Regions from separate parts of the Homo sapiens genome. Here region 1 is linked to region 2. Evidence: fine-mapped expression QTL. A gene starts in region 2. The other region holds a variant in brackets. All regions are shown on one strand. Distances are between the middles of the regions.

Region 1 (15,259 bases), 38 kb after region 2:
CTGTGCTATAGCAGAACAGATGAGAAGGGAAGGGAGATGGAGAAGAGATGGGGCCTTGGGGAAGTCCAGAACCTGCAGGCAGGCCCACCGGGTACAAGCTGGCCGCCCCCCAGAAAAAGACCTCGCACCTGGCCGTGGTTGTAGATGTGGTACCGCACCAACTCCTGCAGTTTAGAGAGACCCTGGCAGGGGAGAGAGAGGGTTTGGCTCCTGGAGGAACTGTGGGGGAGCGTGGAGGTCCTGGTGCCCCCATACCCGCAGCCCCTTCTCCCGCTGAGCTTACCGCTGTGAAGAGGTAGATCAGGCGGCCGTCACGCAAGCTGTCCACAGCCTCATTGCTTGGGGCAAAGACTGTGAAGGGCCCAGGTCCGTCCAGGATGGAGGGCAGCCCACAGTTCTGTGGTGGTGCAAGGGAGGCTCAGGGGGTTGCATGGCCAGCCTCCACCTCTGAGTCCTGCCTGGGCCCTGCCACCTTTGGCCTGCAGGAAACTCCCACTGAGTAAGGGGGAGACATGGGCAATGGGTCCATGCTACCACAGAACCTCAGGCTTGAGGACGGGGGCATGGGCAGAGGCCATGCTACTTCAGAACCCCAGGTCACTGTGGGGCAGAATCTGGGATAATGAGTCCTGGCTCAGAAGCCCAGAAGCCCACATGGGCTAGGACCCCTCCCCCGAGCTTACCTCCAGGATGGTTTCAAAGCGGCTGAAGGCCTCGGTAGAGGCGAGGATCTGTCCGATAGTTCTCTGTAAGGAGGGATGAGTGTGAGGGCCCCAGGGAAGGGGTGAGGCTGCTTCAGCCCAGCGGGGAGAAGCTGCGCTCCAGCCCTGAGTAGAATGGCTCCTGCCCACTCACTGCTCTCTGCAGGGGTCTGAGATTACCCAGCAGCACAGGGGAGGGGAGGGGAGGATGCTGGCTCACCTTGGGATCCCCAGGGGTCCCAGAGGGGGCCTGCCACCGCAGGCCAGTGACCACGTGGAAGACGCCATTAGCTGCTATGTTGTTGGCCTTGTAGATGTTGAACGTCTGCTGGGGCTGGTCTTTGTACTTGTAGGAGTATTTCTGGTGAGACACAAGAGGTCTGGCCAGATCCCATATGCCAGCCCCCTGTCCGGAGGCTCCCTCCCACCTGCACACCCTTGCCAGGCTGTGACTCCTCTTGTCCCCAGGCTGAGGCTCCTCCCTCACCGTGAATTGGTTAAAGGTGACGGTGATCTCCTGCCCGGCCAGCGTCCACCACCTTCGTGTTTGTTGGGTCCTTGTGTCCTCCAGGATGTGCTGCCCTGCGATGATGTGCTGTCTACAGAGCTGCTGGGCAAGGGATGCCTGCAGACGCAAGGCGGGGAGCAAAGTGAGCCGGGGGGCCAGTCCTCTTCACACCACCTCTACCCAGCAATGGAGGGGACAGGATGCATCCCAGGCCCTGATGCCTTCCAGGTGGCCCTGAAGACTGGGGATGCATCCAGGGGAGGAGGTGAGGGCCAGTGGCCAGCTCCACCATGGGGAGGGGCTTACATTCATGGTCCTGGAGGAGAAGGAGGAGACGGATGGCACCAGCACGGTGAAAGGGCCCGCTGTGGTAAGGATTTCCCGGCAGCCCTGGTCTGGGGGGCAGGGTGAGGGAGCATCAGAAGGGAGCTGGGGAGACTCTGGGGATCTCAGAAGATGTTCGGGCATCAGACCTGGTGTGGGGGAGTTGGGGTGGGGGTATTCTCCCTAGATTTAGGGTAGATGGGGGCCTTGAGGTTGGAGAGCAGCTCCCACCCCCTGCATGCACCCCCCACAGCCACCTGTTTGTTCCCACAGCCCTGGGCAGAGAAACTGGAATCTGCAGAGGCAGCTCCTCCCTCCCTGCCAACTGTGCTGGGGGTGAGGGGTCGGGTCGTGGGCAAGCAGTGGGGTCACGCACCCATCATGGCCACGGCGACCCTCAGCTGCAGGAACACCCGGCCTGTCTGCGTGGCCTTCTGCACCTCGTGGAGCAGGTGTCCGTAGCAGGCACGCCCATCCCCCACCTCGCTTTCCCTGCACACACAGCTGGGCTCCCAGGGAGAGCCAGTCAGGGCGGAGGCTGAGGCCCCCCCCACCGCACCCCCCACGCCTTCCCGCAGAGGGCACGCTTGCCCAACCCACTGTCTCTGCTCCCAGGCACCTGTGCTCACCTGGTCTTCCCATCAGCGGTCACCTGGCAAGTGGCAGACCGGTCGCAGGAGAAGGGGGAGCAGAAGGCGAAGCAGCCCGCAGAAGCGTTGCTGTTGATGCTGACCAGGCCTGGCCGGCAGGTGCAGAAGGCCTGGCCCCCGACAGGGCAGGAGGGGAACACCACGTCCAACCCCAAGAACCACTGGTGTCTGCCCTACCCATAGAGCCCTGCTCAGCCCCTCCCTGAAGAGGACCCTTATCCTCTCCCCACTTTACAAGTGGGGAAACTGAGGCTACCAGAAGGCCTGTGACTTGCCCAGGGTCCCATAGCCAGTGTTTGGGTGCACTGTGGGGACAGTTCCGGCCTGGGACCCTGGCTCACCTGGCCCGGCTTCTGGTACACACACAAAGTAGAGTTGCTGGGGCAGCCACCAAGGTTGTCAGTGCATGGGTCCTTGGGCAGACACACCATCCCATCGCCATGGTAGTTCTCAGGGCAGTGACACTGAGCCTGCCCCTTGGGGCTCACCGAGCACTGGGCCAGCAGTGAGCAGGGTGATGGCCAGCAGGGGTTGGGGGCTGCCAGGGCAGAGAGAGAGCCCAAGTGAGCCAAGCACCCAGGAGCCCTGTCTCCGCCACAGCTTTCACCAGGAAGGCCGGGGCCAGCAGGTTGACCTAGGCCTTGAGGATAGGCTCCCCTTAGGAATGGCTCTCCCTCCTTGTGAATTACATTGCACTTGCTGGGTTAAAGGATGCTCTCCCAGCCCCCGCCCGCCCTGAGCTGAAGTCCCTGGCCTCTGAGTCCAGGCTCACCTCGGCATTCACTGCCCTGCTGTGTGTAGCCGGGCAGGCACCTGCAGCTGGGAGCCTCTGCGGAGCACTGGGTGTTCTGGGGACAGCGCAGCTCCTGGCAGACGGGCAGCTCTGCGCAGAGTGGAGAGAGCACTGATGAGCCCAAGCCCAGGCTGGGGAGGAACACAGGGGCAAAGGGGCCTTGCCTGTTCTGTGTGACTTGGAGCAGGGCCCTGACCTTGCTGGGCCTCTGGACAGTGGAGGTCTCAGATGACACCCCTTCCCCAACTAGGCTCCAGGCGGAGGTCCTGCTGAGGCTCAGGCCCCATCCTCACCCAGTCGGCCTCTTTTGCTCTGGCCACAGGGACCTGCTGCCCTAGGCTATCCCAGTGGCGCTGCTCACCTTGATCACAGTGGGGGCCAGTGTATCCAGCAAAGCACAGGCAGCTTCCATCCCCACGTGGCCCATGGTTGCACACTCCGTGCACACAGCTGCACACTGGGAGGGACACACAGAGACAGATGGGGCCCCAGCCTCTCCCAGGCACACACTGGGACATCGGGTCCCTGCTCTCTGTATTTTTAGAACTCAGCTCGGGCAGGTACAACCTTAAGAGTACAGAGCTGTGATGCGGGACCACAGGGGTGGTGGGAGACCACAGAAGGCACTGGCCCGGCCTGGGGCTCACAGAGGGCTTCCTGGAGAAGGCCTCTCAGGGGAGTAGCATGTGCAAAGGGCTGGAGGTGTGATAAAACAAAGCACATGTTCCTGAAAGGGATGTGCAAATCTGAGGGGCTGGGACAGAGGCTGAAGGGACAGGTGGGAGCTGGTTGTAGGTACTGCATCTGCGTGGGCCCCCAGGTGGACGCTGGCCGTGCCCTCTTGCCTTTTAAGCACTCACCCGATTGGCAGTCAGGCCCGAACCGGTTGGGGTCTTGGCACTCCTGGCAGGCTGAGCCGCGGAAGTTTTCCTGGTGGTGGATGCACCAAGTCAGCGTGGCCCCTCTGAGCCTCCACCCCACCTTGCCCAGCCCTTACCTGGCACACACAGGTCCCATTCCTGTCCATGCCATCCAAGCAGGTCCCGTGGCCATTGCATGGGGTCTCAGCGCCCCCAGGGCATTCTGTGGACCCCCACAGTACTCAGCTCTGTGCCCAGAACCCTCCGCTTACCCTGACCCCAGCAGCTCTGGCCAACCCCAGACTCGGCCCCTCCCCCAAGGAAGCAAGAGCAAGGGGGCCGAGCCTTGGAGGCGCTCGGTGAGTATTAATTAAACAAACAAGTTGAAGGGGAATGCAGGTGGCTCCTGCAGAGGGCTTGCCCAGAGCTGGGGCTGGGTGGGAGGCGCAAGGCGGGGTCCCCCTTTCTCCCATACCATGGCACCGGGAACCCCAGTAGCCAGGGCAGCAGGCCTTCTGCACCACTTGCTTCCGGCACTTCCGTCTGCAGCCGCTCATGGACACCATAGAGCCCCCCAGCTGTACTTCGTAGCTGGGGGCAGAGGGTGGGCAGGGTGATGGAAAAGGCTCCCTTGCACAGCCCCCACCCAGCCTCCCCACATTGGCTTCCGGGGCTCCCACCCACCTCCCTGCTCTGCCTGGCCCAGAGCTGAGCACAGGGCCTAGCACATAGCAGGTGCCCCATAAACCCCTCCTGCCCCTCGCCTTTACCCCTTCCTCCCCGCCTATCTCCACCACCCAGGTGGGGCCACAGGGGCATGGATAAGTGAGTGCTTCTCCTCATTTTGTGGGCCTGTCAGGCTCCCCGAGTCCCTGCCACCCCACAGGATGCTCCTGGACACAGGCAAGGACAGGGGTGGCCCGCACCGGCAGTCCTGGGTTATCTGATCCGGGAGCTCCCGCAGCCAGCCTGAGGGACACGTCTGCTTCTTGATGGCCGCGCACGAGGTGCAGGGTACATGAGTGACAAACGTGGTTTTCACATCACAGCCTTTGAACAGCACCTGGGGCCACAGGCAGGGTGTGGTCAGGGGCCTGGACCCCACGCCCAGTCCTGACCCTGTCCTCAGTGCTGCAAGGGCTCACACCCCTCCAGCTGCCACTTCCCATCTGCTCAGGGGTCAGAGTAAGCAGAGGGTTCTGGGCACAGAGCTGAGTTCTTTGGGGGTCCACAGAATGCCCTGGGGGCGCTCAGTGGGAATGCAGTGCAGATGGGGAAGGCCCTGTGAAACCTGTCTGTTACAAGTTGTTAATGTCACATCGAGTCCTTATGTGCCCGGCCCAGAAGGCTCTGAGTCCACACCCTCTGACACTAGAGAATCTAGCCACGTTGCTCCCCCAAGCCCATTTCAGGTGAGAAAACTGAAGCCCAGGACATGGCCGCTACCCAATCTCATCCATGAACAGGGTGTGAACCAGGGACTAAACCCAGATTCCCAGCCTAGTGCTCACTTTTGCCTTTTGTTTAAAGATAAAGAAACAATAAATGACAGAGCTGATGCTGTCTTGGGAGGACACGGCGACTCCATCCTCAACTCATGGGCACAGGCACGATGCCGGCTCCAGCCATGCACCGTGGGGCTGGACCTCCAGCCACCACTCTGCTCTGAGCATTTTCCCACGTTGCTACCAAATGACCCTCTCTAACCAAGCGCAAGGGCTTTCTCCGCTGCCCAGGAATCAGAGACTAAGGGCCCTGGCCCTGAGAGGCTGGGCTCACGTGAGCAGCTGTGTGCAGGGACTCTGGTCTGCAAGTGTTTGGGCTGGGCAGTCACAGGAGACAACGGGCCATGCCAGCCTCTGAGGAAACCCAGGGCATCCTGGCTGGGGCCCCAGGTGGTTTCCTGAGGGAGGTGGTCATTGACTTGGGACCTGAAGGATGCATGAGAATTGGTCAAGGACAGTGCTCCTGGCCTAGGGGACAGCAGAAGCAAAGGCCGGGAGTGGAAAGAAGTAAAAACAAATGTGTGACAAGGCAGGCAGTGGCCCGAGGGGAGGCTGGAGAGGGGCTGGCAGCTGGGGTGCAGGAGCTCCGTAAACCTGGGTGAGGCAGAGTCCAGGGCAGCCCCATGACTCAGTTTATGGTTTTTTGTCTTTGAGAAAGGGTCTCGCTGTGTCGCCCTGGCTGGAGTGCAGTGGTGTGACCCTAGCTCACTGTAATCTTGAACTCCTGGGCTCAGGCGATCCTCCTGCCTCAGCCTCCCGAGTAGCTGGGACTACAGGCATGTGCCACTGTGCCTGGCCAGTTTTTTTTTTTTTTTTTTTTTTTTTGAGATGGAGTCTCGCTCTGTCGCCCAGGCTGGAGTGCAGTGGCGGGATCTCGGCTCACTGCAAGCTCCGCCTCCCGGGTTCACGCCATTCTCCTGCCTCAGCCTCCCAAGTAGCTGGGACTACAGGCGCCCGCCACTACGCCCGGCTAATTTTTTGTATTTTTAGTAGAGACGGGGTTTCACCGTTTTAGCGGGGTTGGTCTCGATCTCCTGACCTCGTGATCCGCCCGCCTCGGCCTCCCAAAGTGCTGGGATTACAGGCGTGAGCCACCGCGCCCGGCCGGCCAGTTTGTTTTAAATTGGCCCTCTGGCTGCTGCATGGAGAATACAGTCGCAGGGGCAGGTGTGGTGGGAAAGAGGCCATCATTACCTGAAGGTGGCCTGGGCCAAGGCAGGGACAGTGGAAATGGATTGGGAGATATTTGAGAGGGCTTGGGGTGGTGAGATGAATTGGGAGAAGGTCTCAGCAACTGGGTGGGGCGTGGAAGATGTGAGGAGTCCAGCCTGCCACCACGGCATGGGCACAAGGATGCTGACAAAAGCCCCAGGCCTGGAGTCCCATTCACTGGCCTGCCATAGCTCCTGGAAGTCCACCAGCCTTCTACGGCAACAAAGTCCCAGCAACCTTCAGCACTGAACCAGGAGGCGTGAAGCTAAACTCCCAGTTCTAGTGGGAGGAAGGGGCATAGGGAAGGGGCATAGGTTGGAGGGGAGGTGTTTGGGAGGCTTTGGGCATGGCCCAGAGAAGTGGAGATGTTCTCATCTTGAAAAATGCTGACCACACTGTGGTCCAAAGGGAGTGACCCCAGAACATCCCTTTCCTGGAATAATTTACAGATGTGTGGCTTCTCAAAGCAAGAGAAAAGGAGAAATGGTGCCCCTGACACTTTCTTATGGCAAATACCAGGGCCCCAGAGCCTCTGTGCTACCGTGATTTGGCCTTTTCCGCTCATGCCTCTGCGGTCTGCAAACAGGGAAGTTGCTCAGAGCAGCCTGTGTTGAACGGCGGAGCTGGGATGTTGTGGTCTCGTTCCCCATCCTGAGGCTCGCCTTTGCTGAGCCAGGGAGAGACTAGGAAATTGGGTAACTTGAGGGCTGAGCAGCTGCTGGCTCAGGGTAGAGGCTTGGCAGGAGGTGGGCTCCCCTCAAAGCCACCTGGCCAGCTGGGCAAAGCTGCCAGCGCGGTCACCATTCTGGCTGTGGACCAGCTCTTGGAGGAATGGTGGTCAGCTCTGGATAAGGGCTCAGGCTGAGTAAGACTGTGCTGGTCGCACTCTGAGACAGTCAGGGCTAGATGGAGCGATGGGTGAGTTAGGGCCCAGAAGGAAGCGGGAGCTTTGGGGCCTGGTGTGGACACTCACTCACAGGACCTGGGTGTTTGTAAACGTGTGTGAAATGCTGATGAATGGTAAGCCTGCTGCCACATCAGTGCTTCTCCGAGACCACAGCCGAGGGGCCCTGCCTCCGCCCCATGGCCTGGAAGGAGCATCGGCGGTCTGAGCCCACATCTTGCCGTTGGTCCAGCTGGGTGGAGTGAGGCTGGATCACGGCCTGAGTGCTGAGTCAGATTCCCTCCTTCCTGGGGGCACCTCGGGACTGAGCCAGAGCGGGTGCTGTCTCCCCC[C/G]CAACCCCACACCCCCCGCAGACCTGATTTTGCAATGTCTGCTTCCCACAGAGCTGCTGCTGGGGGAAGTTGAGGAGACACGAAGTGTGAAGTCTTTGGTGAGAAGGTGGATGAAATTCTCCCAAGCTGGGACCTGGTTCATGGGGACTTTTTAAGGCTGAGAGCCCAGAATCTAAACCCTGTCAGAGAGGAAGGAACCCCAAACTGCTTCCCCCTACCTTTGGTCAGATCAGGGAGGGTGCAGGGCTGGGTTCTGGACCGTGCTCCTCTCCCGCCACAGGCTCCACTGCACACACCTAGCCACGTGCCCTCGGTGAAAAGCTGCTGAATGGGCAAGTGCTAAGGGCCTTCCAGGAAAGCCTTCCTGCCTCGCTGCCCAAACCCATCTTCACTCCAGTCCTGTTGCTGCCCTTACTGAACAGGTTACCCGGGATATCCTTTCCCCTCAGAGCTTCCACTCCTAATATAGTTGTTCCTTGGTGTCTATGGGGGACTGGTTCCAGGACCCTCCTCAGATACCAAAATCTGTGGATGCTCAAGTCCCTGGTATAAAATGGAATCGAGGCTGGGAGTGGTGGCTCACATCTGTAATCCCAGCACTTTGGGAGGCCGAAGAGGGTAGATCACCTGACATCAGGAGTTCGAGACCAGGCTGGCTAACATGGAGAAACCCTGTCTCTAATAAAAACACAAAAATTAGCCAAGTGTGGTGGTGTGCGCCTGTAGTCCCAGCTACTTGGGAGGCTGAGTCAGGAGAATCCCTTGAAGCTGGGAGGCAGAGGTTGCAGTGAGCTGAGATAGCGCCACTGTAATGCAGCCCGGACAACAGAGAGAGACACCATCTCAAAAAAAAAAAAAAAAAAAAAAAGGCATCGAATTCACATATAATCTATGCACATCCTCCCGTATACCTTAAGTCATCCTTAGACGACTTATAATACCGAATACAATGTAAATGCTATGTACATAGAAAAGTCTGAACATGGGGTTGGGCACGGTGGCTCACACCTGTAATCCCAGCACTTTGGGAGGCTGAGGCAGGTGGATTACCTGAGGTCAGGAGTTACAGACCAGCCTGGTCAACATGGTGAAACTAAAAATTCAAAAATTAGCTGGGTGTGGTGGCGGGCGCCTGTAATCCCAGTTCTCGGGAGGCTGAGGCAGGAGAATCGCTTGAACCTGGGAGGTGGAGATTTCACTGAGCCGAGATCACGCCACTGCCCTCCAGCCTGGGCTACAGAGCGAGACTCCACCTCAAAAGAAAAAAAGTCTGAACATGTTCAGTAGAGATGCCATTTTATTTCCTGAATATTTTCAATCCAGGGTTGGTTGAACCCAAGTACAGGGTGCACAGATACAGAGGGCCAACTGCACTTACAGTGGCTCTCGGCTATGCAGGGTGCTGGGATAGAGGCCACGTAGCTGTGTTAGAGTGGCCAGCACTGCTGCAGCCCCATCCACAAGGAGTGGTCAGAGCCATAGGTCTCTGACAAGGAAAAAACTCGAATCTGAGGCCCCTCACTGACCTCTGTCCTCACTGCCCAGAGCATGAGGAGGTGGCGGAGGCCTTTGAAATTCCCTTGCATGGTACACAGGGGGAAACTGAGTTAAGGGGAGGGCAGGAGCTTACCTGCAGGGCTCTCAGCACAGCCCTGGAACCCTTGGCTCTTCCCCCATCACTGTCGCCTTCTCAGCCTCATATCTTCCTGTCCCCAGCCCTGGCCTGGTCCTGAAGCTGGTGAGGCCCTTCTCCCTGCTGCCTCTCTGAGGGACCACAGGCATCCAAGAGAAAGCGCCTGATGGTGGCAGGGGGCCTAGGCCCCTGGCTGGACTGCCTGTGGGATCCTGGGCAAGTCCTCCCCGCTCTGGACTTTAGTCTGGCCATCTGTGCCATGGGGATAGTGGTTGCTGCTCCAGGAGGCAGACACGCTCAGCCTCACAGGAGAGAGACTACCCCCATCACCAGGGTGGGAGGCTCTTCCAGAAGCTCCCAGAGGCCCCTACCATGGGGCCTGAGCAGACCTGCAGCCAGGAGCCTGTCACAGGGACCTGACCGAGGGGCTGGCTGTGGCTGCATACCAGGACCCTGTCTGCTCGCCAGCACACACGGATGGCCATCACAGGCAGGGGTTTGGAGCATGGCTTTAGAGTGGGAATGGCCTGTCCCCATCATCCTAGGGCTTCGGGTTCCTCACGAGGAGGACAGGAGGAGTTGCCCCGAGGCTGTGAGGATTCAAGGGGACCTGCCCGGGGCTGTGGCTGCTCTGTGGCAGCTCTGAGGCTGAAGTGTGTCCTTGCCAGCTGCTCATAACCCCGGACACTAAGGGTGAGTGACTCATTCTGCTTCCCGGTACTCTTGGGGCTGGACACAGGCACACACATGTGCACACACTTGCCCCACGTGAATCTGTAGTCCTCGGGGGTTGGAGGTGATCACATCTTCAACCCCCAGGTGAGGGCCACATAAGACCTGGGCCTCCGTCTGGGCCAGAAGGGCAGGACAGGCCTGCCTCTGTACACTTCAGCTGCACGCTGGGGAGCCCCGGCCCCGCATAGTCAGAGGAGGGTGGGCTGACACACCCCTGAACCCTGGGTGGCTGGACGCAGACCTCAGACTGGGGAGGTGGGCACAATAGCCAGCCCCCAGGCCTGCTAAGAGGCCAGACAGGCGCCAGCTGCGGTTTCTCCCCAGGCCCCTGCCCCTCCATGTCAGTCCCTCCCTGTTCCCACCGCTGGCCGGCAGGGCCCAGACGCCGTGTGCCCCTGCGACTGGCTCACACTTACCTGCCCCCTGACGAAGCTGAAGCCTGCCAGGCAGAAGGCCAGGAGGCAGAGTGGGAGGAGGCCCCGGGGCCCCGCCATGGCTGGTGGGCACGCTGTCCAGGACAGAGTCGGGGCGTAGGGAATGAGCTCTAGGAGGCAGGCACAGCACAGGCAGGCGGGACGGGGCGGGCAGTGGCCTTAAAAGCAGCCCGGAGGCCCCGCCAGCTCACCCCCACAGGAACCCGCCAGGATTTCCTCCTGCATATCAGCAGCCTGCAGGCGGAAGGGAAGGTGCTGGCCACTGACCCCCCATGGGCGGCCTGAGCCCTGCTCGGGGCTTCCCGGCTGGGACCCTCCTGGCATCACAACCTGGAAGTCCAGGCCACCATGAGCCCCGGGACCTGGGCTCTATCAGAGGTTCTGAAGCAAATCCAAAGGCACACGTGAACGAGTCCCCCGCCTGCGAGCCCAGTGTGTTTCATTCAGAGGCTCCTGGGGTGCTGGTCGGCGGAAGGCAGGGCAGCCCCTGAATGGGTCTGTCTGTTCCTGCCTCCACCTTTCCAACTCCAGGGCGCTCATGGGGCTCTGACTCGCTACAGGCACCCTGCTAGCCCACCAGACCCACATCCCCTCACTAGCCCCAGCCACTCCTGAGCCGCTGGTCCTGCCCGCCAACCCCCATCCACCCTCCCTGCCTCCCTATCTGCCCTCCACTCAGCAGCCCATGCTCAGCCAGCTTGCTGCAGCACCTCCAAACCCCTCTCCAGCTGGCTGGTCTCTCTGAACTCTCCCCAGACAGGTCTGCTCCAGCCGCGCAGGCCTCTCTGCTCCTTCAGTGAGCTCTCCCGGCATGTGCTGCTACCCTAGATTGTCACACTCTGGCTCCTTCTCACAGGTGGTCTCAGGTCAAGGGCCACCACTTCAGAGCGCCTCCCTGGTCTCAGCCTGCAGGTGGCCCTGCACCTGGTTCACCTGGCAGCACCAGCCACCAGCTGACATTGGCTTGTTTCATTTGTCTCCCCTGGAACATTGGCTGTGGAAGAGTAGGGGCGCTGTCTGGCTGATTCGCACAGTGGATGCTCAATACACGTGTGCAGAAGGAATAAATGAATGGAGGTGGCTACTTTTATGATCCCTCTGTTACTGGTGGGGAAACTGAGGCTCAGAGGGGCTGGGTAGCTTGTCTGAGGTAATCAGTTTTCATATCCAATCCCAGGGCTACTGTCTGAAGCCACCACTGCCTGCACAGCCAGCACCCCCAAGAGGTGCAGTGGGCCCAGGCTGAGGGCCTCTGCGTGCCAGGGCTGCACGTGGTGGGCCTTGCCTCCAGTTGTCACTACCCCCAACTGCAGACGGCGTAACAGTTGGGGAGACAGGAGTGGGCCAGAGCCCGGTGGCCATCTGTAAATGCTTTGGTAAAGGCCAGGTTGGGGAAAGTTTCTCCTCCCCAGCACACCTCCACTCCCATCAGTTTGGAGGGGCCTTCAGGCAGGCCTGAGATCTGGCTGGGATGGGGGTTGCAAGGGGAAACCCTCCCCACATTCCCCACACCCACAGTCTTCCTGGGGGTGAAGGGTCCTCCAGGCAGGACCCCCACTCTGCTGGCACCAAGGGAAACGGGGGAACAGAAGCAGGCCTGGGACCCAGGCTGGCCACGCCACCCACCTCTCCACAGCCCTGCCTGGCCTGGCTGCCCCAAGGTCCTGGGGACTGAGGCTCCTGGCTGGGCCAGGATGAGTTATGTGGGGCTCATAGGCCCTGCTCTGGCAGCAGGAATGGGGTTGGGGAAGAGTGTGGCATGGGGTTGGCTACCAAAATCCCAGGTCCTACCTCAGCAGGCTCCCTGAAGCAACCCTCAGGGAGGGGCCCATGAGCCTCATGTTTCAGGGACATGAAGACAGACACAGATGGGTATGTGCCCCTCCCTCCACTGTCCACCACCTGGGTCCACCTCCCCACAGACCTCCCCTGCTGCCATTCAAGGGCCACCTTGGTGAGATGCCCCGGCCCCCACCAGCCACCTCAGACTCTGGGATCTCTCTGTCCTCCTCGCCCCTCCCCCACTCTCAACAGGGGTTGTGAAACAGGTGGGGTTGGGCCCAGGGGTGACTGACACATAAGACCTGCAGGACAGCCTGAAGAGGGTGGCATGCCCCGCACCCAGGCAGAGGGGCAGCGGCTGGTGTGTCAGGGGTGCCCTGAGGAGTTTCTTGTTTGCCCTGCGCTCATGGTTTAGCCACAGCCCAGCATGGCACTGTCCAGAGAGGCCATGGCCCTGTCATGCCTCCCATGTTCCAAGAAGCATCTGGCTCCTGGAGGGCTGCTCCTTCCTTTCCCCCAACCCCTCACCCTCCTGTCTCCAGGGCACCCTCCCTCCCCCATGTGACCACGCCCTGGACGGAAGCCCTGCTGGGATCCCAGTGACCCTTGGTTTAGAAGATGCAGACGGTGTCAAACTCTGCTTTATTGGAATAGAGAATACAGGCAGCAGGAATCACGCTTGGTGCTGGCAGCTCCAGGTCCCCTGCCCCCACGGGCTCTCCCACTTGTCTGGATCAGGGGAGACCTCCACTTTGAAGAACAATATGGGGTGGGAGCTTCCAATGTGCATTCTGCTACCAGCCTCAGGATTAGCAGCAAGATGCCAACAGCAACAGCAACAGCAACAGCAACAGCAACAGCAACAAAGGACTGGACTCGACACTTCAGGAAAGGACGTGTAGAAGAGAAAGTCAGACCCACAGTGTCACGTGTTAACAACGGTCCCACAACAGCAGACACGACACTGGTGTGCACGGCTGTACCACCTGTGGGAGGCTGACAGCACACCGACAGCCCTGAGGGGCCCGGCATTCTCACTCCCAACATGAGAAAGAATTAACACAACACACACACATGTTCACATTCTCTGCGAGGACAGTCAAATTAAGGTACCAAAGGGAGGATAAAACATTTTTAGAGAACACAAAAGCCTGCTGCCCTGCCCCAGTAGGCGTCAGGCTGGACACGACAGGCTGGCTGTGGCCTGGGCTAGCCGGTGAGCTCGACAGGCAGCTCACGGCCACACAGGGCCTCCCACTGGCGAGCCAACAGCGAGATGAGCTTCTCTCTGCTCTCAGCACTGGGGACAAACACCTGCCACTGGACTTCACGGCCCTGGCTGGCTCTAGCCGGGCCACCTGGCACCTCCCCAAAGTGGTCCAGGGTGACACTGCCCATGAGGTCATGACCTTGCACGTCATCGAAGACGAGGGTGAGGGCCTGCGGGTAGGTCTGGTAGCCCATGAGCACTCGGTCCAGGTCCCGGACGCGGCGGCCATCGTCCAGCCGGTACCTGTCTCTCTGCGGCGGCTCTTTGGCAAACTCGGGCAGTGGGTAGTGGACACAGTCCTCATCCAGGAGGAAGATCTCGGAGCTGGTGAGCAGGAGTGTCTTGGGGCGCAGGGGGCCCCTGCAGCACCCAGGGGGTGGCATGCCCACCTGGAAGGCCTGCACGTACAGCAGGATGCTGAGGGCTGGGGCCTTCTCTGGCTCAGCCATCTTTTGGGCCACAGTGAACGTCAGGTCCCCAATCTCCTCCTCACTGGGGTAGGTAAACTTGACGCGACTAGAGTGGATCAGCTCGTAGTTCTCCATCTTCCCTGCAGAGAGATGCCACCTGGGCTATAGCCTGGAACCGGCCCCTGGTGGGGCTGGGAGCACCAAGGGCCCCAAGCCAACCGAGAGACCCCGGCATGAGACAGGCAGGAGAGGATGCTCCAAGTGTGGGGCCCACAGGCCAGGAGCCCAAAGCAGGCACTGGAGATGTGTCTGCCAGATGGTTGAGGGACTGCTGGAGTGGAGACTCTGCCATCGAAAAGCCCCACATAAAACCCTGGCCAGCTAAGTGAGAAAAGAGAGACATAGAGGCAGAGAGGGTTCTGGGGCACAGAGAGCCACCCTGGGGCCCATGACGTCTGTCCAGGCAGCCTGTCTGCAGCCTGAGCTAGACAGGGGTACCTGTGGTCTTGTTCCCAAACTCGGAGTAGAAGTCCTTGTCAACAGGCTCCGGCGAGGGCGTGCGTTCCAGAGAGGACAGCACGACCATGAGGTGCTGGAGGAAGCAGTGCGTCAGGTAGCTGTCCCGCGTCAAGCACGTGACCACCTGCATCGGGGTGGAACCTGCACGAGAAGGGGCTGGTCAGGGCCACAGGCCGGCGCTCCCCAGCCCTATCCCTGCCCCTTAGAGCCACCCCGAGTCCCTAGCAAGCCTCAGCCCAGAGGCCAGGGCCAGGAGGGCCCACACAGGAAAGAATCATGGGGCCCGGGAGGAGGCCATTCCTTCAGGCCGGAAGAGCTGAGGCATTTTTCTGGAAGGGGAGACAGAGACATTAGGCAAAGAGCTTAGCTTTCTCTCCTCAGGAAATGTGAGTCAGAAACATCCTGCCCGAGACCAGGGCCCACTCTGCTTCTGTCCGGGCCAGCGCTTGCCGCACACCCTACCTCCTGCTCTGAGCCCTGGAGCGTGAGTTCTGCTCTCTCAGCAGTTCCTGAAGCTGCTTCCTCCCACCCCGGTTAAGAAGTGGCTCTTGAGCACAGAGATAACTGTCTATGATAACCCACCCACGTACGGAAGGTGGAAGCCCACTGGTGATGCTGGCCTTCACCCGAAATAGGACAAAGCACAGAGGGTCACCCACCCGTCAGCCGGAAATGCTGGTCGAAAAG
Region 2 (16,060 bases):
CAGTGTGAAAAATTTAAACACACACACAAAATGGAGATTAAATATCACATCAGGGATGTAGGTAAGACTTCCAAAATAGAACTGCTAGATGAACAAAAATAACTCATTTATTCACTACTTTTTTTCTTTCTTTTTTTGGGGGGGGCTGTAATACTGTTGTACTATTATTAGGTACTTTCTCTATAAATTCAGATAATAAAGTGACACTCCAAAGCCCATATTCTTTCCCCAACACCACAGTGGAGGTAGAGTTCTAGTAATAAATGCTAATCAGGTTTTCAGCATTCTGCAATAAGTATAGTTCTTGAAATTTATTAAAATTTATGCCCTGTAGTTTACAGTTGGTGGTACTGCAATTCTTTTCACGGCTTTTTTTTTTTTTTTTTTTGGAGACAGGGTCTCACTCCATTGCCCAGGTTAGAGTGCAGTGCTGGGATCATACTTACTGCAGTCTTGATCTGGCTCAGGTGATTCTCCCACCTCAGCCTCCCAAATAGCTGGGACTACAGGTGCACACCACCAGGCCTGGCTAATTTTTTGTACTTTTTGTAGAGACAGGGTTTCACCACGTTGCCCAGGCTAGTCTTGAACTCCTGGGCTCAAGTAATCCTCCTACCTCAGCCTCCCAAAGTGCTGGGATTATAGACATGAGCCACTACTCCTGGCGCCCTTAAATAGTTCAGTGTCTGATAAGTAGGATAGAGTCATTCCTAGTAGGAGAGTTAAAAATACTTTTGAGGAAAAATTAAAAGCTTATATACCTTAGCTGGGCACAGTAGCTCATGCCTGTAATCCCAACACTTTGGGAGGCTGAGGTGGGAGCACTGCTTGAGCCCAGGATTTTGAGACCAGCCTGGTCAACACAGCAAGACCCTGTGTCTACAAAAAATTTAAAAATTAGCCAAGCATGGTAGCTAGCTAGTCCCAGCTACCTGGGAGGCTGAGGCAGGAGGATCGCTTGAGCCCAAGAGTTCAAGGCTGCAGTGAACTATAATCATGCCACTGCACTCCAGCCTGGGTGACAGTGAAACTCATCTCAAAAAAAGCTTGCACCCTAACAAATGAGTTCTCACTCACAGCATCCAAACTAATGTGCTCTGAAAACCTATCTTCCATTGAATACAATAATTGCTTTGGTAGTCTACCTGCCTAAAAGTCAGAAGTTGTCCAATCTTTTTTTTTTTTTTTTGAGACGGAGTTTCACTCTTGTTGCCCAGGCTGGAGTGCAATGGCGCGATCTCGGCTCACCGCAACCTCCGCCTCCCAGGTTCAAGCGATTCTCCTGCTTCAGCCTCCTGAGTAGCTGGGATTATAGGTGCCTGCCACCACACCCGGCTAATTTTTTTTTTTTTTTTTTTTTTTTTGAGACGGAGTCTCGCTTTGTCGCCCAGGCTGGCGTGCAGTGGCGCGATCTCGGCTCTCTGCAAGCTCTGCCTCCCGGGTTCACGCCATTCTCCTGCCTCAGCCTCCCGAGTAGCTGGGACCACAGGTGCCCGCCACCACGCCTGGCTAATTTTTTGTATTTTTAGTAGAGACGGGGTTTCATCGTATTAGCCAGGATAGTCTCGATCTCCTGACCTCGTGATTTGCCCACCTCAGCCTCCCAAAGTGCTGGGATTACAGGCGTAAGCCACCATGCCCAGCCATACACCCAGCTAATTTTATATTTTTAGTAGAGACGGGCTTTTTCCGTGTTGGTCAGGCTGGTCTCGAACTCCTGACTTCAGGTGATCCACCTGCCTCGGCCACCCAAAGTGCTGAAAGTACAGGTGTGAGCCACTGCACCCAGCCTTCTTTTTTCTTTTAATAGAGACGGAGTGTATGTTGCCCAGGCTGGCCTTGAACTCCTTGCCTCAAGCAATCCTCCTGCCTGAGCCTCCCAAAGTGCTTGGATTACAGGCTTGAGCCACCAACCCTGGCCATCATTTTCAAAGTCTGTTGTCCTTAAATAAATTAACATTCTAATGGAAAGAAGAAAAAGAAATGGAGAGGAAAGCTCTAGAGAAGGCCAACACAAAATTCAGTCTAATGGTTCTCTGTGGGGTGGAAGCAGGGGGATGGGCCAGGGAATGAACCCACAGCAGACACAAAAGTTAGCCAATGGTTTTATTAGTGTTTACTATTATTCTTTGTAAAAGGTATGACGTATTTTCTATATGTATCAAATACTAAACTCCTAAAACAAGGTGGGTTAGGGCAAACATGGAGTATGGCCATATAATTGAGAATCATACTATAGTTTTTATACAGCAGTCAAGTCACTAAAAATGGTTTATCAGGTTAGGTTTACCAGGAATCCTAGATGACACAACTGGGCATGAGAATACGATGAACCACCGTCCTCTCCCTGATGGCAGAGGTCATTACTGGCCTTTCACATTCAAGCCATCTCCCAGCTGTGACTCTGGGCTTGCTGCACTGTAGTGTAGGTAGTGCTTTAAGGAGATGGGAGTAGTTAGTTAATGGTTCTTTACTGAATTGGTTCTAAGATAAGTGGACTAAAATTAGAAGAAAAATCTAGAAAAAATTAGGAGACATGTTTGTGGCAGAGATCATTAACTTGAGGATACCCTATGGCCTTAAGCATCAGCTTTATTCTCATGCAATAGTTAGAAACTATTCTGAAACTTAGTCTTTAGTATGTAGATTTTTTTTTGCTTGAAACGATGTTAGATGTGGCTATGCAAGCATGGAAAGGTATCTGCTTTTTCTACCAGGCTGATCCAAACTTACACTGGGTCAGATTGCCAAATCACTCAATAGACTGAGCCTCTGATTTAGCTCAAGTCTGGGATGCTTTATACTGTGTAGGTTCACTTTCTCATGGAAGGAGCAACTGTTTCTAGCAGCTGAATCGAACAGCAACATCTTCATCCTAGAGTAGTGTGAAACCTGTTGCCCACAGTCCTCATGAAGATCCAGCCCTTGCAGTTTAGGGGAGCCAAGCAAGGGAGGAGCATATTTCTGTTCACAAGAACACTAGCATGAGAAATGCGTAGTCAATCAAGAATTTCCACCACCCTAGCAAAAAGTTTATAGTCTAGTAGCTGGCAGAAATACAACCTGCATAATTATCCTGGTTTAAATGATCTGGCAATAGAGAATGTGTCCATAATTTAATTTGAATTCTGCAAAAAAGTAAATAAGGTTATAATTAGTTGCCTAAAAACAAAGATTGCCGAAAACAATTCGGGCTTCACTGAAAAGCATCCTGATTGATCCTTGAATTGTTTAAGAAATATTTCATGGACTAGATTCATCGAGTGAGTGTTTTAGGAGGAAATAATTTTCCCACAAGTGCTGTCCAGCAGTGACTTGGGAAGTACTCAAGCAGAGACAGAACTATAAAAATTCTTTGCAAAAACAGTTATTGGAATATTGTGCAGCTGATAAAGGACAAGCTGTGTCAGAACAAGAGATCTGAAAAGTATATTTTAAAAGGCACTGAAACCAATAGTAAAAATTCATATTGACTTTATTGACTGCTGAAGTTCAGTCTCATTCATCTTCCAGCCTTCTCTGATACTGTCTTTCTGAGGCTTTTCTACGGTAGACATCATCTGTATCAAACAAAAAGTTGCTCAGATGTTTAAGAAACATATTTAAAATTAAAACAATCTGAATAATTTAACCAATAGTCTAGGTCTGTCACCTACTTCTGAATCTTGGCATTAATATTTAACTCAATGCCAAAATAAACTTAAAACAAAACTTGAGTTAGATGAGGACTATGATAATGGAGTTCTAGACTTAAATAGGGTAAAAGTCAGTGTCTTGAAAGATAGAATCATGTCTTAGCACATCTCTTAGTGTTTTAAGATGTCCCTCACTTCCTTCTCCCCCATAATTTCTATTCTGTGCTCTGAAGTCATCCTTCTTAACTAAAACCTGGCTCCTCAAAGGCACTTCTTGCCTCTTGGCTCTCTGATGCTCCCTCTCCCATATCCAGAAACCTTCAGGTGGGGAGAGGAGATCAGTTTCCTTGTTCCAGCTGCTGCTTTGCCAGACCTTTGACTCGCCACCTTCATGTAAAGAATCTTCTTTCCAGGCCGGGCACAGTGGCTCACGCCTGTAATCCCAGCACTTTGGGAGGCCGAGGCAGGCGGATCACAAGGTCAGGAGTTTGAGACCAGCCTGGCCAGTATGGTGAAACCCCGTCACTACTAAAAATACAAAAATTAACCGGGTGTGGTGGCAGGCACCTGTAGTCCCAGCTACTCAGGAGGCTTAGGCAGGAGAGTCGCTTGAACCCAGGAGGCAGAGGCTGCAGTGAGCCAAGATCGTGCCACCACACTCCAGCCTGGGTGACAGACCAAGACTCTGTCTCAAAAAAAAAAAAAAAAAATCTTCTTCCTTCATGGCTCATGCCATTTGTCTGCCACCATCTTTCTTTGGCACCTGCTCTCCATCATGCCCCTTCAGTCACCAAAAGTGCTGGCCTCTGGCTCAGGTTCCTTGACCCTGTCCTGTGCCTTCTCCCCAGATACCACCATTACCCATGGGGATGAAGCTCCAGTACCCTTCACCTTCAACATCTTCCAGTCACTTGCAGGGCTCCTCTGAAGGATTTCTGTTCATACCACAACCCCCGTTACCTTTCCAGCCCTCCTGTCCTTGGACCTCACGTTTCTTCCCCAGGTCCTTGGCCCCGTCTTACCCGCTCAGCCGCTTCTTGTTCTCTCTCCTGGCAAATCAGCTAAAATTCCTTCATACTCTTGTCAATATCTTAACTTCCTGACACACCCTCAAAACCCCAACCACAGATTAATCCAACTTCCTCCCTTCCCCATGCTTCACCCTGCTTGCTGTGTCCTGAGGGGCCAACTGATGCCTCTAACTGGGTCCACTGAGGTGTCTGACAATCCTGTTTCCTCAGCCATCATCCTGACTCTTTTTCACCCACCCCCAAATGGCCATTTCCTCTCTTCCTTCACAGAGGAAAGTCATCATAAGGAACTCTTCCAGCTAACTTCCAAGGGCTTACTCCTGTCACCCAGCTCTGGTCCCACCCTCTCAAGGGTCCAGTATCTCCAGCCTCTCTCCACCCTCTCCTTCTAGATCATTATTTGCATATCCTGCAGTCTCTCCTAGAGGAAGGGGGGTTACCTCCCCTTCACAGAGCCAGATGTATTTAACCTCCTGTCTTCTGTGATAACAAATCCTCCTGGTTTCCCTCCTTGCCTTTCTGGCCATTCTCAGTTACCCTTAAAATGTTGGGATTTGGGCCAGGCGCAGTGGCTCACGCCTGTAATCCCAGCACTTTGGGAGGCCAAGGTGGGCAGATCACCTGAGGTCAGGAGTTCTAGACCAGCCTGACCAACATGGAGACACCCCATGTCTACTAAAAATACAAAATTAGCCGGGCGTGGTGGTGCATGCCTGTAATCCCAGCTACTCCAGAGGCTGAGGCAGGAGAATCACTTGAACTTGGGAGGCAGAGGTTGCGGTGAGCCAAGATCGCACCACTGCACTCCAGCCTGGGCAACAAGAGCGAAACTCAGTCTCAAAAAATAAATAAATTAAATTAAAATGTTGGGATTTGACTTCCATCATAATTTGCTTCTGAATGGTTCACAAATCCCAATTTCTGGCCCAGATTTGCCTCCTGAGCTTCAGCTCTGTATAACCATATCTACCTCGTCACGTCCCAGATGGTGCCCAGGATGGCCCTGCCTGTGTTCGGCACCTTCAGGAAATGCACTACCCCCTGCCCCAGGTGTCCCACCAGAAGCCTCCACTCCTCATCTCCTGAGTCCACTTAATCACCATGCCCTGTCAGTACTACCTCTGGGCTGTCTTTTACTTCCATCCCTTCTTGGTATCCTTTCTGCCCCAACCTAGACCAGGCCACTGTCTCAACTCTGGACAGCCATACAGCGTAACTGTTCCTACCAATCTGTCCACAAGGAGCCATTCTCCACATGTTAAAGCCTCTCCCTAAAATGACTCAATCCTTGGGATCCATTCTTGGTTCTCCAGTCCCTTTGCCACCCTGCCCAGGCACCCTTCTAGCCATCCCCACTTTGTTGATCTGCTTCAATCCCTCAAACACACAGCATACTCTCACACAAGTGCTCCTACCACTGCCATGGAGATGCTTTCAATTCCACACACCTTCCCCTCATCTGACTGACACCTACTCAGTCTTCAGGTCCTACTTTACTTGGTAGCTGCTTCCGGAAGCCTTCCCTGCACCATCTAGTCCAGTTGAGGCGCCCACCCGAGAGTCCTATGTTCCTCCCACTTCCTTCTCACAGCACTGATCACTTTGTATGCTAATTGTCTTTATCATCTTCTTTCCCATTAGAGCTCTTCTGGGGTAAGGGACACCTCTGCCTTGTTCATTATAGCCCCTCAAGAATGCTCATTAAGTATCAATGAATGGATGAACAGAAGGACTAAGGATCTTTAGGAATCACTAATGTAACAATTCTTTAAAATGTGGGTTGGCAAGTCACAAGTGATAGCGTTTCAGGAGAGGGGCAAAGCAGAAAGGGCCGAGGGGTTGGGGAAGTCCTCCTGAAAGGAACTGGCCTGTCCAGAGTTAATGCTCAGTAATGCAGTGCCAGGCGTTACCACTATCTTTACAGTGCTGATCATCTGGACCCAGACCAAAGACCTGGTGCCAATGACTGTCCTGTAAAGGTAGTGGTAATTAGCAAAGCCAGGCAGATCAGCTCCCTCCAGAGTTTGGACAGAAGAATCCAAAGAGAAATGGCTAGTTAGCAGGAGTTTCCCTGACCCCTCATATCCACCCCCTTCTACGATTGTTGTGAGCAAGTCTGTTCCTTAAGCCCAAACGATGTCACCGGCAGGGGTGAAGGGCAGGCATGAGAGGGCTGGAAGAAGCACGTGATCTCGCCTGTAAGTGCAGGGAAGGTCACAAGGCTGGACGCCAATGTGCCCGGCCTACAGGAGAGCCAGGCCGCCCTGACTGCCAAGCGAATGGAACTGCACTCGCCCAGCGCTCTGAGTGGAATGCGCGGTCTGCAATCTGAGAATACTCCCCAGAAAAACGGATCCCTACCGCCTCGTGCCTTCCTGAAAGGAAACAGAGACTGCTACCCCCTCACTTACAGAAGGTCTCCTGGCCCACGCGCACTTTAATCATGATCCACTCCATCGTTCCTCCCAGGACAAAAAAGAAGGGCAGGAACCGGTAGATGCCAAATCGCTGCTTCCCGGGCACCCGCTGCAGAATCCGTCTCACCTGGGCCCTGGTGAACATGCTCGACCGAGGTCGTGGAGAGGGATATGACGGAACTAAGCACTGGATCGCCCGGACGCAGCCGAGACCGCCCCGCCCGTTCTCGCCGTGTACCGCGACCTGGGAGACTAGCGAGCGCCGTCCTCCGCCACTGTCTGGTAGGCGCACGAGTGCCGGAACTGGGCGCCGACCTTCTAAAGCGAGGCGGATCCGCCAATCAGACTGCAGCGGGGGCGTGCAGCTCCGCCAATCAGAGCACGGCAGGGCGCGCGTGCTCCCTGAAGCCGAGCAGGGCCTCGAAGGAGCTGGCGCAGGCGCCTCAGCTCTGGAGGTGGGACGGCCCAAAAGGGAAGGACAGCCCACGTGGCGCCGGCCCGGCCCCGCCCCCTGCCTCCCCAGTGCAGGTCTGAGCTCGCAGTTGGCAGCCGCGCCCCCTACTCTGCCACCGCCATTTTTATTCCTAATACCCAGATAGAAGTGATGACCCTCTCTGATGGACTATGTACAGCACCACATTCCAAAATGCAATTATGCAATGCCTTGCGTTTATTTCGGAGACGTGATTGGTGCCTAGACTTCTAAAGTAACAGAATTTGATATGGAGTGTTGAAAGCTGAACTTTATCAATTATCACAGCAAAAATCTAAGTAAGCGCCCCGTGAGAACCCTAAAATTAATAAAAGCTATCTTGTATGGGGCACTTACAGTTCCACAGGCACTTGTAGGCGCTTTATTCACAATAATCGCAGAAGAGCAGTATAAAGAGCATGCACTCTGTTACCAAACCACATCCCTGCTCTACAGGTGCTCCCTTAGCCCATCTGTGCCTCAATTCCCTAAGCCGTAAAACGGAGGCCTTGTTCTGACGCTGTGATAATTTAGTGCGGTAATAGGAATGATGCACTGAACACAACCCTGGAGCATAGTAACTGATTAATATTAGTTAGAATATTCATTATGATGATAATGATTGGCAGAGCCCTCGCTCTTCACATGTATTCCCAAACATGGTTTTTGTTTGTTTCTTGAGACAGGACCTCGCTCTGTCATCCAGGCTGAAGTGCAGTGGCGCAATCTCGGCTCACTGCAACCCCCTCCTCCCCGGCTCAAGCCATCCTCCCACCACTACAGGCGTGCACCACCACGCCCGGCTAATTTTTTAATTTTTTGTAGAGATGGGGGTCCCACTATATTGGCCAGGCTAGTCTCAAACTCCTGGGCTCAAGAGATCCTCCTGCCTTGGCCTCCCAAAGTGCTGTGATTACAGGCGTGAGCCACCGCGCCGAGTCTGAACGTGTATTGTTTATATGTAGTCTCTTAACTGACAGTTTAAGAGACTATGCCAGGTAGAAGCAGGGCTCTGACTTAAGAGACTTCACTTGTAATTGCGTCTTCTCATGCTGCTGTGCTTGCTGAAGATAACTGAAAGGGGCTGTCACCCCATTACCTAGGACTAAAGTAAAAACTGCAGGAACAGCTTTGAGAAAGGAGACAACTATTAGACAATCTAAGGAAGGTAAATGAAAGCTTAGAACCAATGAGACGATTTGGTGATATGGACACAAAATATACAAAAGCAGACTGGAGAGAGCAAGCAGGGCCCCAGAAAGGGTCATAGGGCCCGCAGTGAGCAGCCTGAGCTGCCGCCTGTACAACCGGCTTTGGAGGGCCAGCCCGGAAGCCTCTTTCTCCTCCGGGTAGACTCCGCCCAAGCATGCACACACACAGGCTTGATGCTCGCTCCCGTTTCTACAGGAGGTTTTGACGGCTGGATGCTGCAGGGCATCCCCTCGCCTGGAGGAGGTTCACTTGTGGCCAGGTTCCCAGCACACCCACTTGCTCACTGGGGCCCTGGGGACACCGCCACACTCGAGCCCATCCTACGGCCTCAATCCTTACCAGTCCCCAGGCCATGGACTGCCACACTGTAGGTCTTCAATCAAGGTTCAGTGGAGTTTCGAATGTACACACACCCTGAAAGACAGCGCGGCCACCTCAGAAAACAACGCGCGCCCAGCTGGCTCCCCTCCGACAGGGCCCACGGCTACTGGGTCGGCCTCCTCCGGACCCTGAGCACAGCCTGGTATGCGTGCGGGCTCGGAATACGGATCTGAGCAGAAGAAATGCGAGTGGAGAGCGGTTCTGCGCAGGAAAGAGGAATTTTGTTGGAAAGCCTGTCGACGTTGCTAGAAAAGACCACAGCATCTCACGAGGGGCGTGCGCCGGGAAACCGGGAGTTGACGGGTCAGTGCGGCCAGTTGCCGAGGTCCGAACCAAGCGGGCGCAGTGACCGTGGCCCACAACCCTGCAGCGCACGGCCCAGTCACCTGGTTAGCGGACGTCGGCTGCCCTGCAGGCCCCTCGGCCTCCCCCAGCGTGGGCCTGGCACCGGGAAGCGCGGGAAGGGCTCTTTATTTGTTAGACCAGTGAGTGGACTGGCCCGGGCTCTGGTCAGTGGGCAGTCAGTCCGAGCCCAGAGACCGGGGACCAGGACCCCGGGAAAGGAGAGCACCAGGACTAGGGGGAGGAGCGGAGGATCTGGGGTCAGAAGCATCCAGAGGCGCAGGGTAGGGCGGGCGGACCCGGGAGCGGAGAGGGCGGCAGAGGACCCGGGGGCCCGGGGGGTACCCGTCGCGCTCCGGCTGTCTCCTCTCGGCGCCTCGGCCGTCCGGAGCCTCTCAGGGACGGCCGCTCTTAGGCCCGCTGACTTCCAGGGCTGGGGCCAGGGAAAGGCGCCGCCATCGCCGGCGTGACGGCCGAAGGGGGGCGCAGAGTCCTCCCGGACCGCGCCGGAGACTGGCTGGGGGAGGGGGCTGGGGAGCCCTCCCCGCCCCGCCCCGCCCCGCCGGGTCCGGGGCCTCCCGCCCCCCGGGCCGAGGGGCGCGCCCATTGGCAGGCCGGGCTCCGCGCGCCGCACCCATTGGCCGGCCGCCGTGAGGAGCACGAGGCCACCGTGGCGGGCGCGCAGTCGGAGGGCGGCGGGCGGCGGGCGGCGGGCTGGCCGAGGGCAGCGCGGGCGGCGGGCGGCGCGCGGTGGGCATGGCGGGTGCGGGGCTGCGGGCGGCCGCTCGGCGCTGGCTGCTGTGCGGAGGCCACGGCGGGCCGCGAGCCGCCTCGTCCTCGCCCTCCTGCCCTGGGTGCGGCCCCCCGGGTCCCGGCGCCCACTGCCCCGGCGTCCCGCGCTCCGCGCCCGCCCAGGCACCCACCAGCGGCGCCGACCTCAGCGCGCACCTATGGGCTCGCTACCAGGACATGCGGAGACTGGTGCACGGTGGGTGAGCCGGGGCGGGACGTGCGCCGGGGTGTCTTCCGCGTGGACTGATGGACGGACCGAGCCCCAGGGTGCCGCTCCTCCGGGGAAACACCCAGTGGGGCTCGCCAGGGCCCCGGAGCGCAAGGGCCGGGCGGCTTTTCGCGAGAAGCTCCGGCCGTTCATCCCGGGGGCCTCTGGGGCGCCCCGACGCCCGGGGGCGGGCGGGAGGTTTGTTCCCCGGCTCGGTCTGCAGGAGCTCGGGGCTCCTCGAGCGGCTGCCGGAGTGCTGGGCCCCCGCCGACTTCCTTCGGGGTCCCGCCTGCCGTGAAGCCGCGGTGGAAACGCCCCCAACCCCTTGTTCTCGGCCAACCCTTAGTTGGGGCGGGAGAGTGCTGTGGACAAAGCCAGCGAGCGGCGCCGGGCGGAACGGGCTCCTAGGGACGGCCGGACCAAAGGGGACACCGGTTGGACTTCCCAGACACACCTCGATGTCGCCCTGGAGGTCCGGCCCCCTCTCAGCCCGGGCAGCGAAGGCTGGGAGAAGCCAAGTCACCCCCGCCCCCTGGAGCCCAGACTAGGGCTGCAAAGGGCACTTAACCTCCCTGTCCCTGCTCTCTCCCTCTGAGAAATGGCGTGAGGAGGCTGAGGCCCCTTCTTGGAGGGGGCCGGCTGGGGCGCACTAGTGAGGCCCCAGAGCTGAGAGTGCTGGACATCTGCCTGCTTGTCTCCGTGGGTCTAGTGGGGCCCTGCTTCTGCAGCAGACAGATATGGTTTGGGTCGTGACCCTATCACTGACCAGTTGGGTGGTCCCCCAGCAAGTCTCACCCTCTCTCAAGCATGAAACGCAGTCCTGGGGCCTCTCTGTCCCAGGGTTGGGTGATGACTGGAACCAGGCCAAGCAGGGCAGGAGAGCTTCCGGAGGAACCCCCAGGGGTGACGTGGCTTTTGTTGTCTGATAAAACAAAGTAGCCCTGTCTGGAAGATTCTAACTGGCTAGACAGGGGTTTTCACTCCGGCTTTGTGGGGTGGCGGAGAATCACTTCTTGACCAGTAAAGGCAGGATGGTAAAGGCCCCTGAGGAATGGTCATTTTGAAGCCTTGGGCATCTGTCCACCCTCGAGGTCCCAGGTTGAGTTTGTGTCTGTGGAGGGGCGGCCCAGCGTTATTTAAGAAGTCTTTGCTCTGGGCCCGGAGAAGACCCTCAGAGTATCCTGAGAAGCCTGCCTTGGAGGTTTCAGGGAGGACTACGGGGATCTACTGGACATTGTCCTCCTGGGCCTGCCTGCATCTTTGGAGCCTCACAGCCCTCTAAGCTCCTCTTGTCATACAAGGAGCAAAGTCATTCCCACCAAGATCCCATGGTGAGCACCAGCAGGAGCCAGCTTCACACCTCTGGGCGCCGAGGTCCGCTTTGGGCTAATGCCCACGGGCTGAGAGCAGTGCAACAGGTCCCTCAGTCCCCCAGCCCCCACCCACCTGGCCTCAGTGTGGTGACATTGGGAGGCTAGGCTGAGAGGCAGAGTGATTAATGCAGGTGGGGTGACTTGAATGGTGATCTCAACCCCGGTGCCTGTTACTGGGTGGTTTGGAGCAAGTGACTTCACCTCCCTGAGCCCCAGTTTCTTCCTCCGGACGATGGGGGAATAAGTGGGACTGCCTCACAGGATGGGAGTGAGGATTGAACAAGACAAGCCTCTAAGGCATCCACAAGTGTCACGGCTGCTAGGGAGCAGTTGGCCCTGGGACCTGGCACCATGGGCAGGTGTGGGAGCTAGGGCTGAGGAGAAAGGAGGGCAATTGCTGGACATGCTGAGTGGGACACACCCTCAGCTGCCCCACCCCCACCCCCCACCCACACCACCTATGGAAGGGAACAGGCTTCTGTCGCCCCAGAGCCAAGGTTCTTCTAGTCTAGAAATCAGGCCAGGCCACCAGGCCCTGTGGCTGTTTCCACATCCTGCTTTGTTCCTGGGAGGACTGTCTGCCCCTGGGCCCCTGGGAACATCCTTAGGGGCAGAGGTGAAGGCCTGGACCTAACCAGGACTCTGTGCCAGCAAGGGGCTGCACTGCCGAGCAGACCCTCCCAGGTCTTCTGCACCAAGAGTCACAGTCACAGTTGGTATCCGGGAACTCAGGGCCATGGGAAGGGCAAGGCCCAGGGTCCTAGTGACACACCAGAACCCTGGGCCTTGAGGGGTGGCTCAGAAGCAGCTCCCTAGAGCGTTGCAGTCAACTGTCTCACTTGCATCCAAGTGAAGACTCCTGTCTACACCCACAGATCTTCGGAGCAGCCGCTCTGTGCTGGCCTGGGGAACCAGCCACACCTGATCCCCCACCCACACCCTGAACTTGGCTCCAAAGGAAAGGGGTGGGAATGGAGCCCTGTGTCCCCAGAGTGCCTCTGAGGCAAGTGCTCTGGGCACGGAGCACATCAGCGAGATGTCTGCCTCTTGAGTGCAGCAGCTGCCAGGCACACTGTGGGGCTTCCCTGGCCCTCTGGCCTGGCAGCTCCTGCTTTGTCATCGGCACTGGGGTTGTGGCTGAGACAGGGATCCCCTGGAGTCTTAGAGCTGGGGCCCCTGCAAGGCAGGGGTACTAGATGTACCCTGTACATCTAGTCCTGCCTGCTCCCTTCTCCCTGCAGCCCCTGCTTCTGGAGGGACACTGGGAAATTGGGGACAGGATGCTCATAGGCTCAGGAAACATATCACCCATTTAATCCTGCATATGTGCAGGTGCAGAGTGAGATTGCTGCACAGAGCAGCACCTTCCATATGACAGTCTTAGTAATTCTGTAGGTTGGTACAATTTTTTTTTTCTTTTTAAAAATGTTTTCACAGAGACAGGGTATCGCTATATGGCTTAGACCAGTCTTGAACTACTGGGTTTCAAGCAATCCTCTCGCCTCAGCCTCCTGAGTAGCAGGGACTGTAGGTGTGTGCCACCATGCCCCACTTGGTACAATTTTTTGTACCCTTTTAGAAACTAGGAAACAGGCCCAAGAGGTGAGGTGACATTCCTGAAGTCATAGCCATGAGAGGGAGGGCCTGGTCTTGTCTGGCTGACCTCATTGCATGTGGCCTTCCTAGCACATCTCCTTCCCTTTCCTTTCCCTTCCACTTTCTCCATTGTACACATAGGGAAACCAGGGCAGGTAACATGGGGCCTCTCAGCCCCATCTGCCTCCTTGGGACCCCAGAGCCCATGCCACACAGTGCTCTGCTCAGCACCCTGCTGTGGGCCTCAAAGCCAACTGCAGCCTCCTGGGAGCAGCCAGGGACTTGGGGTGGCCACGACCACATCCCCAGAAGGAGCAACCTGGATAATGGCCCAGAACCTGACATCACGTCCTGACTGTCGTAATTAGCAATGTTCCCTGGCTAGAGCCAGCAAATGTCATTATATGGGCTTGCGGGCAGCTGAAATCTGATTAGAGGGGCCTCACTCTCCCTGGGCTGTGGGAAGTGCACAGAGCTGGCAGCCCGATCGGCAGAGGGGCTCCCCCTCCCACTAATGTTCCTGAGCCCCAGTCCCAGCTCTGGGCAAGGTAGAAAAGTCAGCATCCATGGCCTCAACCCCCTAGTCTGGCCATACAGAGCCAGCCCCTCTGGGTTGGAGTCCTCAGTGCCCACATGGTATCCTCACACATAATCCCAGGGAGGCTGAGAGATGAGGCCAGGGGGCAGGGCAGGGCAGCTGAGAGGAGCAGAGGAGGCGCTGAATTGTGGGGGGCCAGACAGTGGTGTTCCTGCACGGGTTTTGAGCAAGTGGGAGGCTTTGCTTTGTAGAGCATCCCAAAAGCAGCTGTTCTGGGGCTAGGCGGTGAGGAGTTGAGTGACTGCTGCCAGGGTTCTAGCATGGCCTTGTGTCTGATGGGGCTTAGTGGTGAGGGCCTGGAGTAGTCACGGGCTCAGTATACCTGGTGGGCTATAGGAGATAGTGTAATGTAGGCAGGTGTAACCATGAGGAGGAGCTCCAGCCAGGGGCTCTGCCTTACCCTAACTGCGTGACCCTGGGCAAGTGACTTCTCTCTGGGCCTGTTTGACCATCTCCAGCACTGGAATAAGAGGTGCCATTGTGGGGCGTTTCTGAGGCTCACAGGGCTAGGTCCCCACAGAGTGCTCAGGAGCCATAGCTGCTGCAGGGATCATCATCCCCATCACTGCCTCCCTGCATCTCCTTCCTCTAGACCTCCTGCCCCCCGAGGTCTGCAGTCTCCTGAACCCAGCAGCCATCTACGCCAACAACGAGATCAGCCTGCGTGACGTTGAGGTCTACGGCTTTGACTACGACTACACCCTGGCCCAGTATGCAGACGCACTGCACCCCGAGATCTTCAGTACCGCCCGTGACATCCTGATCGAGCACTACAAGGTGAGACGGGGGTCCTTGCCACCAACAAACCCAGGGCTTGGAGGCTGGCCAGACCCACCTTGGCCTAAGCTCAGGGCTGAGTCGTGGGGCTCCCCTGGCCCTCTTGCCTGGCAGCTGCCCTGGGCAGGTGGCTGGATTGACCCCCTGGGGTGGCCACCCAGCCAGCAGGTCTGGCAGGGCTATTGGCTTAGGCCTGGCCCCTTTCCCCCGGCAGTACCCAGAAGGGATTCGGAAGTATGACTACAACCCCAGCTTTGCCATCCGTGGCCTCCACTATGACATTCAGAAGGTGAGTGGCTGGACCTGTATAGGGGCTCCCTCCTTGGCCTCCTCTTGGTATGGTCATTACCCCTCCGTCCCATCCAGCTGGGGTTCTGGCATGGGCTGAAAGAGGCTGGCTTGGGGCCACGGTGAAACTGCCTCCTCACCATCCGTCCTGCCTCCCTGGCGCCCCCAGAGCCTTCTGATGAAGATTGACGCCTTCCACTACGTGCAGCTGGGGACAGCCTACAGGTCAGTCGGCTCTGCCCCAACCCCACCCCCGCCCCACCCTACACTGCTGTTCTGGCTCAGGACTACCTTGGACTGATGGTATCTTGGGCCTGCTCAGGGGCCTCCAGCCTGTGCCAGACGAGGAGGTGATTGAGCTGTATGGGGGTACCCAGCACATCCCACTATACCAGATGAGTGGCTTCTATGGCAAGGTACTCCATACCCCAGCAGCCAGCCTGCCCCATGGACATGTGCCCATGTCCCAAGGCAGATTTGGGGCCCTCGTCTCCAGCACTGAAGGGGTTGGGGTCCCAAAGGGTGTCTGAGACAATGGCCCCCTCCCCAGGGTCCCTCCATTAAGCAGTTCATGGACATCTTCTCGCTACCGGAGATGGCTCTGCTGTCCTGTGTGGTGGACTACTTTCTGGGCCACAGCCTGGAGTTTGACCAAGCACATCTCTACAAGGACGTGACGGTGAGGATGCTGGGCCTGCCCTCGGATGGCAGGAAAGACTAAGTCCAGCCACAGTGGGACAGCCCCACCTGGGCCCTGCTGTACCCTCATTGTCCTCCACTGCCCCCAGGACGCCATCCGAGACGTGCATGTGAAGGGCCTCATGTACCAGTGGATCGAGCAGGACATGGGTAAGTGTGGACAGAAGCCCTGCCGTGGCCGGCCTGAGCAGGTGGCAGGACTGACCCTCACAGACTCATCTGCCCCATTAGAGAAGTAC

What was found. PIP is the estimated chance that this variant, and not a neighbour inherited with it, causes the effect.
Region 1: its variant is fine-mapped to the expression of NT5DC2 in prefrontal cortex (BrainSeq, PIP 0.95).

The regions. Positions count from the first base shown.
Region 1 is chr3:52,490,806-52,506,064 of GRCh38, reverse strand. STAB1 (stabilin 1) reads right to left here and starts at 10,727. Exons shown (of 69, transcript NM_015136.3): 1 at 10,574-10,727; 2 at 4,763-4,899; 3 at 4,312-4,427; 4 at 3,974-4,059; 5 at 3,837-3,906; 6 at 3,338-3,433; 7 at 2,956-3,066; 8 at 2,525-2,721; 9 at 2,163-2,293; 10 at 1,910-2,037; 11 at 1,516-1,604; 12 at 1,189-1,326; 13 at 922-1,062; 14 at 684-746; 2 more. The coding sequence starts at 10,651. It overlaps NISCH (nischarin), which reads right to left. Exons shown (of 21, transcript NM_007184.4): 19 at 15,232-15,259; 20 at 14,552-14,713; 21 at 12,997-14,193. The coding sequence ends at 13,583. RefSeq lists enhancers at 1,061-1,566, 1,567-2,072. The variant C/G (reference allele first, on the strand shown) is at 7,790.
Region 2 is chr3:52,527,924-52,543,983 of GRCh38, reverse strand. It overlaps NT5DC2 (5'-nucleotidase domain containing 2), which reads left to right and starts at 10,127. Exons shown (of 14, transcript NM_001134231.2): 1 at 10,127-10,478; 2 at 14,650-14,834; 3 at 15,049-15,123; 4 at 15,292-15,347; 5 at 15,445-15,538; 6 at 15,673-15,801; 7 at 15,911-15,971; 8 at 16,053-16,060. The coding sequence starts at 10,247. UQCC5 (ubiquinol-cytochrome c reductase complex assembly factor 5) reads right to left here and starts at 7,379. Exons shown (of 2, transcript NM_001124767.2): 1 at 7,078-7,379; 2 at 2,094-3,560. The coding sequence starts at 7,228. The coding sequence ends at 3,499. RefSeq lists enhancers at 6,527-7,060, 10,888-11,017 and silencers at 7,394-7,693, 9,728-10,227, 10,288-10,637, 10,668-10,757.